Linked DNA regions of Homo sapiens: regions 1 and 2 are each linked to region 3. Evidence: fine-mapped expression QTL. A gene starts in region 3. Each other region holds a variant in brackets. All regions are shown on one strand. Distances are from middle to middle. Region 1 has its middle 23 kb from the start of CCDC124. Region 2 has its middle 4.1 kb from the start of JAK3. Region 3 holds the start of SLC5A5 (solute carrier family 5 member 5).

Evidence for each region. PIP is the estimated chance that this variant, and not a neighbour inherited with it, causes the effect.
Region 1: its variant is fine-mapped to the expression of SLC5A5 in cerebellar hemisphere (GTEx, PIP above 0.99). The same link has a PIP of 0.9 or more in cerebellum.
Region 2: its variant is fine-mapped to the expression of SLC5A5 in whole blood (TOPMed, PIP above 0.99).

The regions. Positions count from the first base shown.
Region 1 is chr19:17,907,501-17,911,733 of GRCh38, forward strand. No RefSeq gene overlaps it. Among named protein-coding and RNA genes, the nearest start is that of CCDC124, 23 kb to the right of the region's middle. The variant G/A (reference allele first, on the strand shown) is at 2,138.
Region 2 is chr19:17,849,973-17,854,205 of GRCh38, forward strand. No RefSeq gene overlaps it. Among named protein-coding and RNA genes, the nearest start is that of JAK3, 4.1 kb to the left of the region's middle. The variant A/G (reference allele first, on the strand shown) is at 1,681.
Region 3 is chr19:17,870,284-17,874,516 of GRCh38, forward strand. SLC5A5 (solute carrier family 5 member 5) reads left to right here and starts at 1,662. Exons shown (of 15, transcript NM_000453.3): 1 at 1,662-2,393; 2 at 3,855-3,920; 3 at 4,211-4,233. The coding sequence starts at 2,037. RefSeq lists an enhancer at 3,432-4,204 and a silencer at 3,997-4,126.

The sequences.
Region 1 (4,233 bases), 37 kb after region 3:
TTTGTTACAATAGATGAACAAATATTAATACATTATTATTATTATTATTATTTGAGACAGAGTTTTGCTCTGTCACCCAGGCTGGAGTGCAGTGGCATGATCTCAGCTCACTGCAACCTCTGCCTCCTGAGTTCAGGCAATTCTCCTGCCTTAGCCTCCCAAGTAGCTAGGATTACAGGTGTGTGCCACCACGCCCTGCTAATTTTTTGTGTGTTTAGTAGAGACGGGGTTTCACCATGTTGGTCAGTCTGGTCTCAAACTCCTGATCTCAGGTGATCCACCTGCCTCGGCCTCCCAAAGTGCTGGGATTACAGGTGTGAGCCACCGCACCCAGCCTAATACATTATTATTACTGAAGTCTACCTTTTACATTAGGGTTCACTCTTGGGTTGTGTATTCTATTGGTTTTGACAAATGCACAATGATGTGTATCCAACATCACAACCTATCATACTGAATATTTTCACTGCCCTAAAAATCCCCTGTATTTGGCTGGGTGCAGTGGCTCATGCCTGAAATCCCAGCACTTTGGGAGGCTGAGGCGGGTGAATCAAGAGGTCAGGAGTTCAAGACCAGCCTGACCAATAAGGTGAAACCCTGTCTCTACTAAAAATACAAAAGTTAGCTGGGAGTGGTGGCGCTCATCTGTAGTCCCAGCTACTTGGGAGGCTGAGGCAGAAGGATCGCTGGAACCCAGGAGGTGGAAGTTGCAGTGAGCTGAGACCATGCTATTGCATTCCAGCCTGGGTGACAGAGCGAGACTCTGTCTCAATAAATAAATAAATAGTCCCCCATGGTTAATCTATATTGGTCTTGCTTTTAGCGTCCTCCTCAGTTCTATTCATTTTGTTAATTTATTCTTTTTTATTTTCTGTAAATGGTCATATCATCTGGTTTCAATTCTTTTTCTTATCTTATTGCATTGTCCAGCACCTCCACATAAGCACGAAATATTAGCCATGATTTGAGGCATTCCTGCCTCATTCTTAAATATGTTGTACATCCTGTTTTACCATCTTTTTTGTTTTGTGTGTGTGTGGAGGTGGGGACAGAGTCTTGCTATGTCACCCAGGCTAGAGTGCAATGGCACAATCTGAGCTCACTGCAACCTCTGCCTCCCAGGTTCAAGTGATTCTCCTGCCTCAGCCTCCTGAGTAGCTGGGATTACAGGCACATGCCACCACGCCTGACTAATTTTTGTGTTTTTAGTAGAGGCAGGGTTTCACCATGTTGGCCAGGCTGGTCTCGAACTCCTGACCTCAGGTGATCTGCCTGCCTCTGCCTCCCAAAGGGCTGGGATTACATGTATGAACCACTGCACCCGGCTCTGTTTTACCATCTAACAGGATGCAGGTGATTCCTTTCTAATCACCATCAATGGTGATCAGAACTTTTAAGAAAAATTCTAAGAACTTAAAAAAAAAAAAGGAAAGTGGTTTCTGAATGTTATCTAAAGTTTTTCCATGGTGAAATAATCACGTGGAATTTTTCTCCTTTTATCTTTTCATTGAATAAATGAAGCTTTCTAAAGCTGAACTTTCCTTGTCTCTTTGGAATAAGACCCCGCATACTCCTAGTATAGTGTCTTTTAAAGCACAGCTGAACTCAATTTGCTAATGTTTTATTCAGCATTTTTGCATGCACCAAGAGCCCTGACCTCTTCCTGGCAGCTCAGTACCCTGCAGCTGAGCCGATTCCCATAGGAATCCTGGAACTTCTGCATAAGGTCAACTGGGTGACTTCAACCAAGCAGCTCCAGAGGCCTCCTCCCAGAATCTCCTCTTCCTCTGGGCAACCCTGCTGCCTACCCCAGCACCCCAGGCAGTGCCCTTGCCTCCTGTTCCTCCTCGTCCTCTGAGCCCTGTCTTGCAGCCCTGTTGAATGTTCTCCTAAATGGCTGGGAGGTGGGGCCCCTCCCCTTCAGGTCCACAGGCTTGTCTCTGTCTCCCCTGCTGATCTTGGTATCTGTAGCTTAAGCCAATACTGAGGCCCTGAATTCCTATTCTTTCTGGTACAGCGGGAGAGTTGTCAAGAAGCCAGGTGGAGCAGAAGACAAGACCAGGCAGGAAGCAGGTAAGTTTCCACTGGAATGACTCCACTTGCCTCCTACCGAGGCCCAGGGCTGTGTCAGCTTCAG[G/A]TGCAGCTGGCTCCAGGCCCACCTGGGGCACAGCACGGCAAGGATGGAAGGTCTCCCCTACATCCTATTCTCCCCAGAGCCAGGTCTGAGACGGGCTGGGATTGAGGATCATCCCAAAACTGGTGGCTCTCAGGAGGTAGCTCACCTCATGCCACCTACCCCACCAAGATGGAATCTTTTTTTTTTTTTTTTTTTGAGACAGACTCTTGCTCTGTCACCCAGGCTGGAGTGCAGTAGCATATTCTTGGCTCACTGCAACCTCCGTCTCCCGGGTTCAAGCGATTCTCCTGCCTCAGCCTCCCGAGTAGCTGGGATTACAGGCACCCGCCACCACACCCAGCTAATTTTCATATTTTTAGTAGAGACAAGGTTTCGCCATGTTGGCCAGTCTGGTCTTGAACTCCTGACCTCAAGTGATCTGCCCACCTAGGCCTTCCAAAATGCTGGGATTATAGGCGTGAGCCACCACTCCTGGCCTAAGGATGGAATCTTGATGAAATTGCTGTGTGGCCTGCAGCCAGTCGCTGCCCCTCTCTGGGTCATCCACGTTGCTTTCTCCAAGTCCTGACCTGGCAATGGATTGTTCAAGGAGCTGGTCAAATCCACAGTTGCCCCAGCAATGCAGAGCCCTCAAACATGAAAAAAAAAAATCTAGACAGAAAGATTTTTTTTTTTCTTAGAAAAATGAGCCAGGTGCAGTGCCTCACGCCTGTAATCCCACCACTTTGGGAGGTGGGGCGATCATCTGAGCCCAGGAGTTTGAGACCAGCCTGGGCAACATGGTGAAACTGCATCTCTACAAAAAATACAAATATTAGCCTGGTATGGTGATGCATGCCTGTGGTCCCAGCTACACAGGAGGCTGAGGTGGGAGGATCGCCCGAGCCTGGGAAGTTGAGGCTGCAGTGAGTTGTGATCATGCTACTGCACTTCAGCCTGGGTGATGGGAGTGAGACCCTGCCTCAAAAATCTAAAAAAAGAAAAAAAAAGAATATTAGATTACAAAATTCACATTACTGTGGAAATTGCTTTTGCCCTTCCAAAACAAATCATAAAACATGTTTCCTGGTGAATACATACAAATCTTACTAAATCTTCTTTTGAATACATATAAATCTTATTAAATCTTCTTTTAATTTATTTTTTTAAATTTGGCTTTTCTTTTTTCTTTTTAATCACAAAATAATTTCAAGAGCCAATTTGTCCTGGAGGCCTTGTTATGAAAATCTGCAGACCCCTGCGGCTCTCATGTTTGACGAAATCAAGAAAAACATTAACACAATCGTTGCAGAAGGGTGACCAATGCGGTTGCTTTGCGGCTGAGTATTGGTTTTATTTCAAAACACAATGTAAGAGGAACAAACAAAACACACATCCCACTCAACACCACACTTCTGACACCAGATGTGTGGGTTGTCTTTATTTTTTCCACATAGTAAGCAATTCTCCAGTGGACACCAGCTGGGATTCCTCTGATGCAATTTGGTTCCGATGCTATCTACTCGGACACAGCATCAGATCCCGCAGGTTAAGGGCTCAATCCCACAAAACAGCCCGCCTTGAGACACAATGGTCTCTATAGAGTGGGATACCCCACCCTTGCAACCTGCAGATGTGTTCATCAACTCGGAAGCTCTTCAAACCCCATCTTTTGGGGATTTTTATGGGGGCTTCATTATGAAGGCATGATTGATTATTAACTCAGTCCCTAGCCCCTCTCCGGTCTCCAGAGAAAGAGGGTGGGGCTGAAAGCTCCAAGCTTCTAATGATGGCTTGGTCTTGTTGGTCCCCACCCAGGAACCCACCAAGAGTCATCTTTTTAGAACCAAAGACGCTCCTATCACCCAGGAAACTCTAGGGGATTTAGGAGCTCTATGTCAGACACTCCCATCACTCTGTCAGGAACTGGGGTCAAAAGACCAAATATTTATTTATTTATTTATTTATTATTATTTTGAGACGGAGTCTCGTTCTGTTGTCAGGCTGGAGCGCAGTGGTGCGATCTCAGCTCACTGCAGCCTCCGCCTCCTGGGTTCAAGCGATTCTCCTGCCTCAGCCTACCGAGTAGCTGGGACTACAGGTGTGCGCCACAGGCC
Region 2 (4,233 bases), 20 kb before region 3:
GTGGGAGGATCACCTGAGCCCAGGAAGTTGAGGCTGCAGTTAGCTGTGGTCATGCCACTGCACTCCAGCCTGGGCAATGGGAGTGAGATCCCGTCTCAAAAAAAAAAAAAAAAAGACTTTTCATCTCTGTATCACCATCACAAGTCTTAACACAAAATGGTTTGGTAAGTATTTTGTTGATCTTAACTGTTCAATCAGCCAGAGGCTTATTGGACACAGCCTGTGTGCAGGGAATCGGGGACAATGCAGACCCAATCCCTGTCCAGGGGAGCTGACAGTCCAGCAGGGGAGATGGCAATAAACAAGCTATTGCCCAATAATTATATCAGTTGCCCCTGGGACCGGTCTGCTAAGAGAGATGACTGGATCTGGGAGGGCTTCCTGGAGGAGGTGGCTTTGATTCTGAAATCCAACAACAAGTGGGACTAGCCAGAGAGTGACCTGAGAATGTGGGAGTGTGGGCAGTTCTGGCAGGCAGAACAGCCCAGGCAAAGGCCTGGAGGCTTCACGAATTCACAGTGTTCCTGAGAAGAGCAGGATGTCAGGGACACGGGGGGCTGAGACTCATTTGATGGCGTGGGTAGGGCCGCGTGGGTCAAGGGAAAGAGATATAGATTATGTCCTCAGCTTAGTGGAGCTTAGTGGAGCCACAGCTGACCTGCGGCAGGAAGTGCCAAGCAGAAGCTTAGTTGTAGTGTTTTCTTTCACTTCCTGGGTGGCTTCAGCAGACGGGAATGCAACCTTATGTTCTCATCCTTGGCCTGAGGCTGAAGCCTCTGCTTTCCGGAAGTACAGTGAGTTTCTGGGTCTCTGCTACCTCCAGTGTGATGGTTTCTGCAATATTTTGAGAATAAGTAAGAGGAGATTGGGGTGAGGACCAAAGTGGTACCTTCAGCCCCAGAGAAGGGCATGTGAAGGCTCTAAAAGGAAGTTCTGGCCGGGCGCGGTGGCTCACGCCTATAATCCCAGCACTTTGGGAGGCCGAGGCGGGCGGATCGCCTGAGGTTAGGAGTTCGAGACCGGCCTTGCCAACCTGGTGAAACCCCATCTCTACTAAAAATACAAAACGCAGCTGGGTGTGGTGGCGGGCGCCTGCAGTCCCAGCTACTCAGGAGGCTGAGGCAAGAGAATCACTTGAACCTGGGAGGCGGAGGTTGCAGTGAGCCGAGATCGCACAACTGCACTCCAGCCTGGGCGACACAGCAAGACTCCGTATCAAAAAATAAATAAATAAATAAATAATTTTTTTTAAAAAAAGGAAGTTCTGGGGACAGAACCCAGAACTTGCCCGAGAAAAATGGGGCACGTCAGTGATGCAAACACCCAGATTTTTCTGCTGACAAGAAGTCCATAAATACAATCAAAGAATAAAATACAATCAAAGTGTAACTGGAAACAAAATTGAACTCATGGATAAAATATCCTCGTTATATAAGTAACATCTAGAAAGCAGTAAGAAAATGCCAACCAGTTAGGTGGATATGAATCCAGAAGTCAGAGAAAATGGAGGACAAATAGCTCTTAAACCCAGAAAAATTTCCTCAGCTTCACTTGCCAAATGAAAATTAAGAGTACAGTGAGGCAGGGCCAGGCACGGTGGCTCATGCCTGTAATCTGAGCACTTTGGGAAGTCAACATGGGAGGATCATTTGAGCTCAGGAGTTGGAGATTAGCCTGGGC[A/G]ACATGGTGAGATCCGTCTCTACAAAACATACAAAAATTAGCCAGGCATGGTGGTGTGCACCTGTAGTCTCAGCTACTTGGAAGACTGAAGTGGGAGGATGGCTTGAGTCCAGGAGGCAGAGGTTGCAGGGAGCCAAGATAGTGCCACTGTACTCCAGCCTGGGCGACAGAGCGAGACTACATCTCAAAAACAAAAACAAAAATGGTAAAAGACTGAATAACTTCCTCCTGAGATTGGAAACAAGACAAGGATGTCCATTTTCACCACCTCTATTCAACATTGTTCTGGTGATGTTAGCCACTGTAATAAGAAAAGAAAAAGCAGGCTGAGGCAGGAGAATGGTGTGAACCAGGGAGGCGGAGCTTGCAGTGAGCCAAGATCGGGCCACTGCACTCCAGCCTGGGTGACAGAGTGAGACTCCGTCTAAAAAAAAAAAAAAAGAAAGAAAGAAAAGAAAAGCTGGGCATGGTGGCTCACGCCTGTAATCCCAGCACTTTGGGAGGCTGAGGTGGGAGAATCACAAGGTCAGGAGTTCAAGACCAGCCTGATCAACATGGTGAAACCCCATCTCTACTAAAAATACAAAAATTAGCCAGGCATGGTAAAAATACAAAAATTAGCCGTGCGTGGTGATGCGCGCCTGTAATCCCAGCTACTCAGGAGGCTGAGGCAGGAGAATCGCTTGAACCCGGGAGGTGAAGGTTGCAGTGAGCCAAGATCGCGCCACTGCACTCCAGCCTAGGTGACAGAGGGAGACTCTGTCTCAAAAAAAAAAAAAAAATTAAAAATTGGCAGGGTGTGATAGCTCACACCTGTTGTCCCAGCTATTTGGGAGGCTGAGGATTGCTTGAGTCAGGGAGGACAAGGCTGCAGTAAGCCATCATCACACCATTACACTCCAGTCTGGGCAACAGAGCGAGATCCTGTCTTAAAACAAAAAAATATATGAGAAAAATAAACAAGTCAGGTGTGGCTGGGCATGGTGATACATGCTTGTAGCCTCAGCTACTGGAGAAGCTGAAATGGGAGCCCAAGAATTTAAAGGCAACATAGCAAGATTCTGTAACAAGCAAAACAGAATAAAATAAGTAATAAAAAAAAGGTAAATAAAACTGTTGCTATTTGCTGATGATATGATTGTTTATGTCAAAAACCCAAGGGAATCTATAAGACAACTACTGAAATTAATACATAAATTCAGCAAGTTACCAGGTTTAAAAAGTCCGTTGAATTCAATACAAAAGTCAATTGAATTTTTATACACCAGCAGCAAACAATTGGAACATAAAAAAATTTTGAAAAATTTCCTTTGCAGCAGCACTGAAAAAGATAAAATACTGTGATGGTCTGAGAGTTTGCGTCTCCCCAAAATTAATACATTGAAATCCTAACCTCGAAGGCGGTGGTATTCAGAATCGGAACCTTTTAAGAGGTGATTAGATCATGAGGGTTGAGCTCTCATGAATGGGATTAATGCCCTTATAAAAGAGGCCCCTAGGCTGGGCATGGTAGCTCACGCCTGTAATCCCAGCACCCTGGGAGAATTGCAGGCTGGTCTCTGACAAACAACTTGTGTTTGAGACCAGCCTGGGCAATGTGGCGAAACACCACCTCTACCAAAAAAAACACAAAAATTAGCTGGGCATGGTGGTGCACACCTGTAGTCCCAGGTCAGGAGTTTGAGGCCAGCCTGATCAACGTGGAGAAACCCCATCTCCACTGACAAAACAAAATTAGCTGGATGTGGTGGTGCATGCCTGTAATTCCAGCTACTTGGGAGGCTGAGGTGGGAGAATCGCTTGAACCCAGGAGGTGGAGGCTGCGGTAAGCCGAGATCACACCATTGCACTCCAGCCTAGGCAACAAGAGCAAAACTCTGTCTCAAAAAAAAAAAAAAAAAAAAAAAAGGCCGGGTGCAGTGGCTCATGCCTGTAATCTTAGCACTTCGGGAGGCCAAGGTGGGTGGATCACCTCAGGTCAGGAGTTCAAGACCAGCCTGGCCAACATGGTAAAACCCCGTCTCTGCTAAAAATACAAAAATTAGCTGGGTGTGGTGGCGCACGCCTGTAATCTCAGCTACTCTGGAGGCTGAGGAAGGAGAATCGCTTGAACTCGGGAGGTGGAGGTTGCAGTGAGCTGAGATCGCGCCACTGCATTGCACTCAAGGTTGCGTGACAGGAAAGAGGCTACATCTCAAAAAAAAAAAAAAAAAAAAAAGAAGGCCAGGGACCTGGAGTCCGGAGTGCATACAAGTGGGTGGCTTTGCAGTGTTTTGAGGACCAACGGTCAGAAACCAAGATTTGGGTGTCTTGGGCCCAGCCTTGGGAAGGCACTGGTGCCAGTAACTGAGATGAGGGAAAGAGTGGGAAGGATGAGGCACATCAGCATTGTGAACGCTCCGTGATCCAAGCTGTGGCTTGGCCCAGGATCCTGGATGAACAAACTGGTGCCTTCAAAGTCCCTGGGAAAAAGACAGGGGGGACAGGGGTGCCCTTGGACAGCCCTGCTAACCAGGAACTCCTCGCCTGGGCCCCACTGGATGGTGATAACAG
Region 3 (4,233 bases):
CAACAGGTGCCCGCGTAGCCGCCGCAGTGTCACAGCCCCGGGGGAGGGACAGGTCCACCCTGCACAGCAGAGAGGGAGCAAGAGGACTGTCCGGGGGTTACGTGGGGACGCGTTGAGAAACGCTGGACCCAGCTGGAGCGGCCAGGGCAGAGGGTAGGCCAGAGGAGGCCACCAGGGAGCAGCAGAGGCTGGCGAGAAGCGCTCAAAAGCCCTTTTTTTTTTTTTTTTTTTTTTTTTGGAGACGGGGTCTTGCTGTGCTGCCCAGGCTGGAGTGCTGTGCAGTTCTCGACCACAGCTCATTGCAGCCTCGAACTTCCACGCTCAAGCGATCCTCCCACTTCAGCCTCCTGAGTAGCTGGGATTACAGGCATGTGCCACCACGCCTCGCTAATATTTGTATTTTTCATACAGACAAGATCTCACTATGTTGCTCAGGGTAGTCTCGAATTCTGGGACTCAAATGATCCTCCCACTTCAGCCTCCCAAAGTGCTGGGATTACAGGCATAAGCCATCATGCCCGGCCTCTGACGCTGTTTCTTTCAACCCCCAGGATTTCAGATTCCACCAGCTTATGGAGAAGGGAACCAAGTTTGAGATGCGTGATTGCCCAGAAAGTTGGAGGCTGAGCTGAGACTTGAACCCAGAGACCAGAACCTCCAGAGGTCAAAGTCCTCCTGGGTCCCCCAGAGAAGGGCCCTGAGATGACAGCTCGTTGGTCCTCATGGAAGCGTGACCCCCCCAGTAGACTTTCTCCCACACCCAACCTTGGTTTCCTCATCTATATGATAGGGACAAGCCAGACTCTACCTCCCTGGTGGTCATGGTCTCCGCTTATTCGGGTTCATAACCTTAAAGGCCCCTCGCACCACCTCAGTGAGCCATTTATGCCTGGCACAGGGCCAACTCTCAGTGCATATCTGCAAAGGAACCAATGAATGAATGAATGAAGTGACAAATGAATAAAGGAATAAATGAATGAGGCACTTATCATGTACCAGGCTTTCGTTACCACGTCCCATTTATTCCTCTGAGGCAGGGTCTATTTTATCCTTGTTACAGATGGGGAAACTAAGGCCCAGGGAGGAGCAAAGTCTTCCCCAAGTATGTACCCACTCAGAACTTGAGCTCTGAATGTCTCCCACCCAGCTTAGCCCAAGAGCGGGGTTCAGTGATGCCCACCCCCTAAGGCTCTAGAGAAAGGGGGTAGGCCCACATGCCAGTTTGGGGGTGGTAAAGCCAGGTAAGTTTTCTTTATGGGTCCCCTGAAACCCTGAAAGTGAACCCCAGTCCTGCATGAAAGTGAGCTCCCCATAGCTCAAGGTATTCAAGCACAATACGGCTTTGAGTGCTGAAGCAGGCTGTGCAGGCTTGGATAGTGACATGCCCTCTCTGAGCCTCAATTTCCCCACCTGTCAACAGCAGACAGTGACAGCTGTGATCAGGGGATCACAGTGCATGGGGATGGGTGGGTGCATGGGGATGGAGGGGCATTTGGGAGCCCTCCCCGATACCACCCCCTGCAGCCACCCAGATAGCCTGTCCTGGCCTGTCTGTCCCAGTCCAGGGCTGAAAGGGTGCGGGTCCTGCCCGCCCCTAGGTCTGGAGGCGGAGTCGCGGTGACCCGGGAGCCCAATAAATCTGCAACCCACAATCACGAGCTGCTCCCGTAAGCCCCAAGGCGACCTCCAGCTGTCAGCGCTGAGCACAGCGCCCAGGGAGAGGGACAGACAGCCGGCTGCATGGGACAGCGGAACCCAGAGTGAGAGGGGAGGTGGCAGGACAGACAGACAGCAGGGGCGGACGCAGAGACAGACAGCGGGGACAGGGAGGCCGACACGGACATCGACAGCCCATAGATTCCTAACCCAGGGAGCCCCGGCCCCTCTCGCCGCTTCCCACCCCAGACGGAGCGGGGACAGGCTGCCGAGCATCCTCCCACCCGCCCTCCCCGTCCTGCCTCCTCGGCCCCTGCCAGCTTCCCCCGCTTGAGCACGCAGGGCGTCCGAGGACGCGCTGGGCCTCCGCACCCGCCCTCATGGAGGCCGTGGAGACCGGGGAACGGCCCACCTTCGGAGCCTGGGACTACGGGGTCTTTGCCCTCATGCTCCTGGTGTCCACTGGCATCGGGCTGTGGGTCGGGCTGGCTCGGGGCGGGCAGCGCAGCGCTGAGGACTTCTTCACCGGGGGCCGGCGCCTGGCGGCCCTGCCCGTGGGCCTGTCGCTGTCTGCCAGCTTCATGTCGGCCGTGCAGGTGCTGGGCGTGCCGTCGGAGGCCTATCGCTATGGCCTCAAGTTCCTCTGGATGTGCCTGGGCCAGCTTCTGAACTCGGTCCTCACCGCCCTGCTCTTCATGCCCGTCTTCTACCGCCTGGGCCTCACCAGCACCTACGAGGTACCGGACAGAGGCCCGGGGGTAGGACCTGCCCCACTGGCAGTGCTGGGACCCCGTGTGGGGGAGGCGCTGGGGCTTTGGGCCGCTGTACAGGAGGACGCGGATGGCACCTCGGTGCTTTAACGGAAGGGGCCCCTAGGCAGACACGTGGGGAGGGTTCTAGGAAGAGGCCCCAGGCGCCCGGCGAGGGGCAGGAAGGAGGAAGAGAGAGCCTGGCGTCCTGCTCCTTCGGTGGAAGCGCGCGCGGGGCGGGGCCCGGCTCGACCAGGTGTGTCCTCACGGGTGGACACACACCTGCCCCCCACCTGCCCGGGCGTGCAGACCCACGTGTGCGCGCTAGAGGGGACTGCTGACGGCTCCGGGGTTCGAAACCTGGCTTCACTGCTTTCTTGTATCTTGGGCAAGGGGCGTGCCTCTCTGTTTGGGTTTCCCAGCTGTCCAATGGGCGAATTACAGGACCTCCCTCCAGGGGAGAGGGTAAAGCGATTAAAATCGTGACCGGGGCCCGGTGCGGTGGCTCACGCCTGTAATCCCAGCACTTTGGGAGGCCAAAGCATGCAGATCACCTGAGGTCAGGAGTTCAAGACCAGCCTGGCCAACATGGCGAAACCCCGTCTCTACTAAAAATACAAAAATTAGCCGGATGTGGTGGTGGGCACCTGTAATCCCAGCTACTTGGGAGGCTAAGACAGGAGAATTGCTTGAACCCGGGAGGTTGCAGTGAGCCGATATCGCGTCACTGCACTCCAGCCTGGGCGACAGAGCGAGACTCTTGTCTCAAAGGAAAAAAAAATATTGTGGCAGGGCGCAGTGGCTCACGCCTGTAATCCCAGCACTTTGGGAGGCCGAGGTGGGTGGATCACGAGGTCAGGAGTTCAAGACCAGCCTGGCTAACATGGTGAAACCCCGTCTTTACTAAAAATACAAAAATTAGCCGGGCATGGTCGCGCGCGCCTGTAATCCCAGCTACTCAGGAGGCTGAGGCAGAAGAATTGCTTGAACCTGGGAGGCGGAGGTTGCAGTGAGCCGAGATCGTGCCAGTGCACCCTAGCCTGGGCGACAGAGCGAGACTCCGTCCCCCCTCCCCCCCAAAAAAATCGTGACAGGTATATCCTAGGCGGCCAACACCATTGGCCCGGGGCACTGTCTACACTGTGCGCTTGCGGGCCACGTCGGTGTCTGCTGAGCGGTGGCTGCTCCAGGAGCCCGCGCCCGTCAGGCGCAAGTGGGAGGGCGCGTGCACACGCATGGACCAGTCCTCCAGGTCCACGGGGTACGCACAGGCACGGGATGGCACCTGTGCACGGGTGTGTGCGTGCGGCGGGGCCCCCACGTGCAAGAATCTGGCGGGCGCGGTTGGCTTCCGGAGGGAGGGGCCCACCTAGAGAGCAGACCAGGGACCCGAGAGGCCTCGGCTCCTGGGTAAGGACTGTCCAGGTGACCTCGAGTCCCTCCTTGCAGTACCTGGAGATGCGCTTCAGCCGCGCAGTGCGGCTCTGCGGGACTTTGCAGTACATTGTAGCCACGGTGAGTGGCCTCGGCCCCGCCCTCCGCTCAGGGCCCCGAGAGCGTCAGCCTTCACTAGCCCGGCCCCCACCATTCAAGACCCCGCCCAGACCCCGCCCCCCATGCTCCCGTTCTGACCCCGCCCCCATCAGTCCCCTCCCACACCACAGCCGGCCTGACCCCGCCTGCACTCTGGAAGACCCGGCCTATCTGCCCCGCCCATATTCTGGGACCACCCTTCTGCCTCCTCTCCCCATCCCCAACTCGCCCAGACGCCCTCCCTGCTCACCCGCCCCACACTCTGTCTACAGATGCTGTACACCGGCATCGTAAT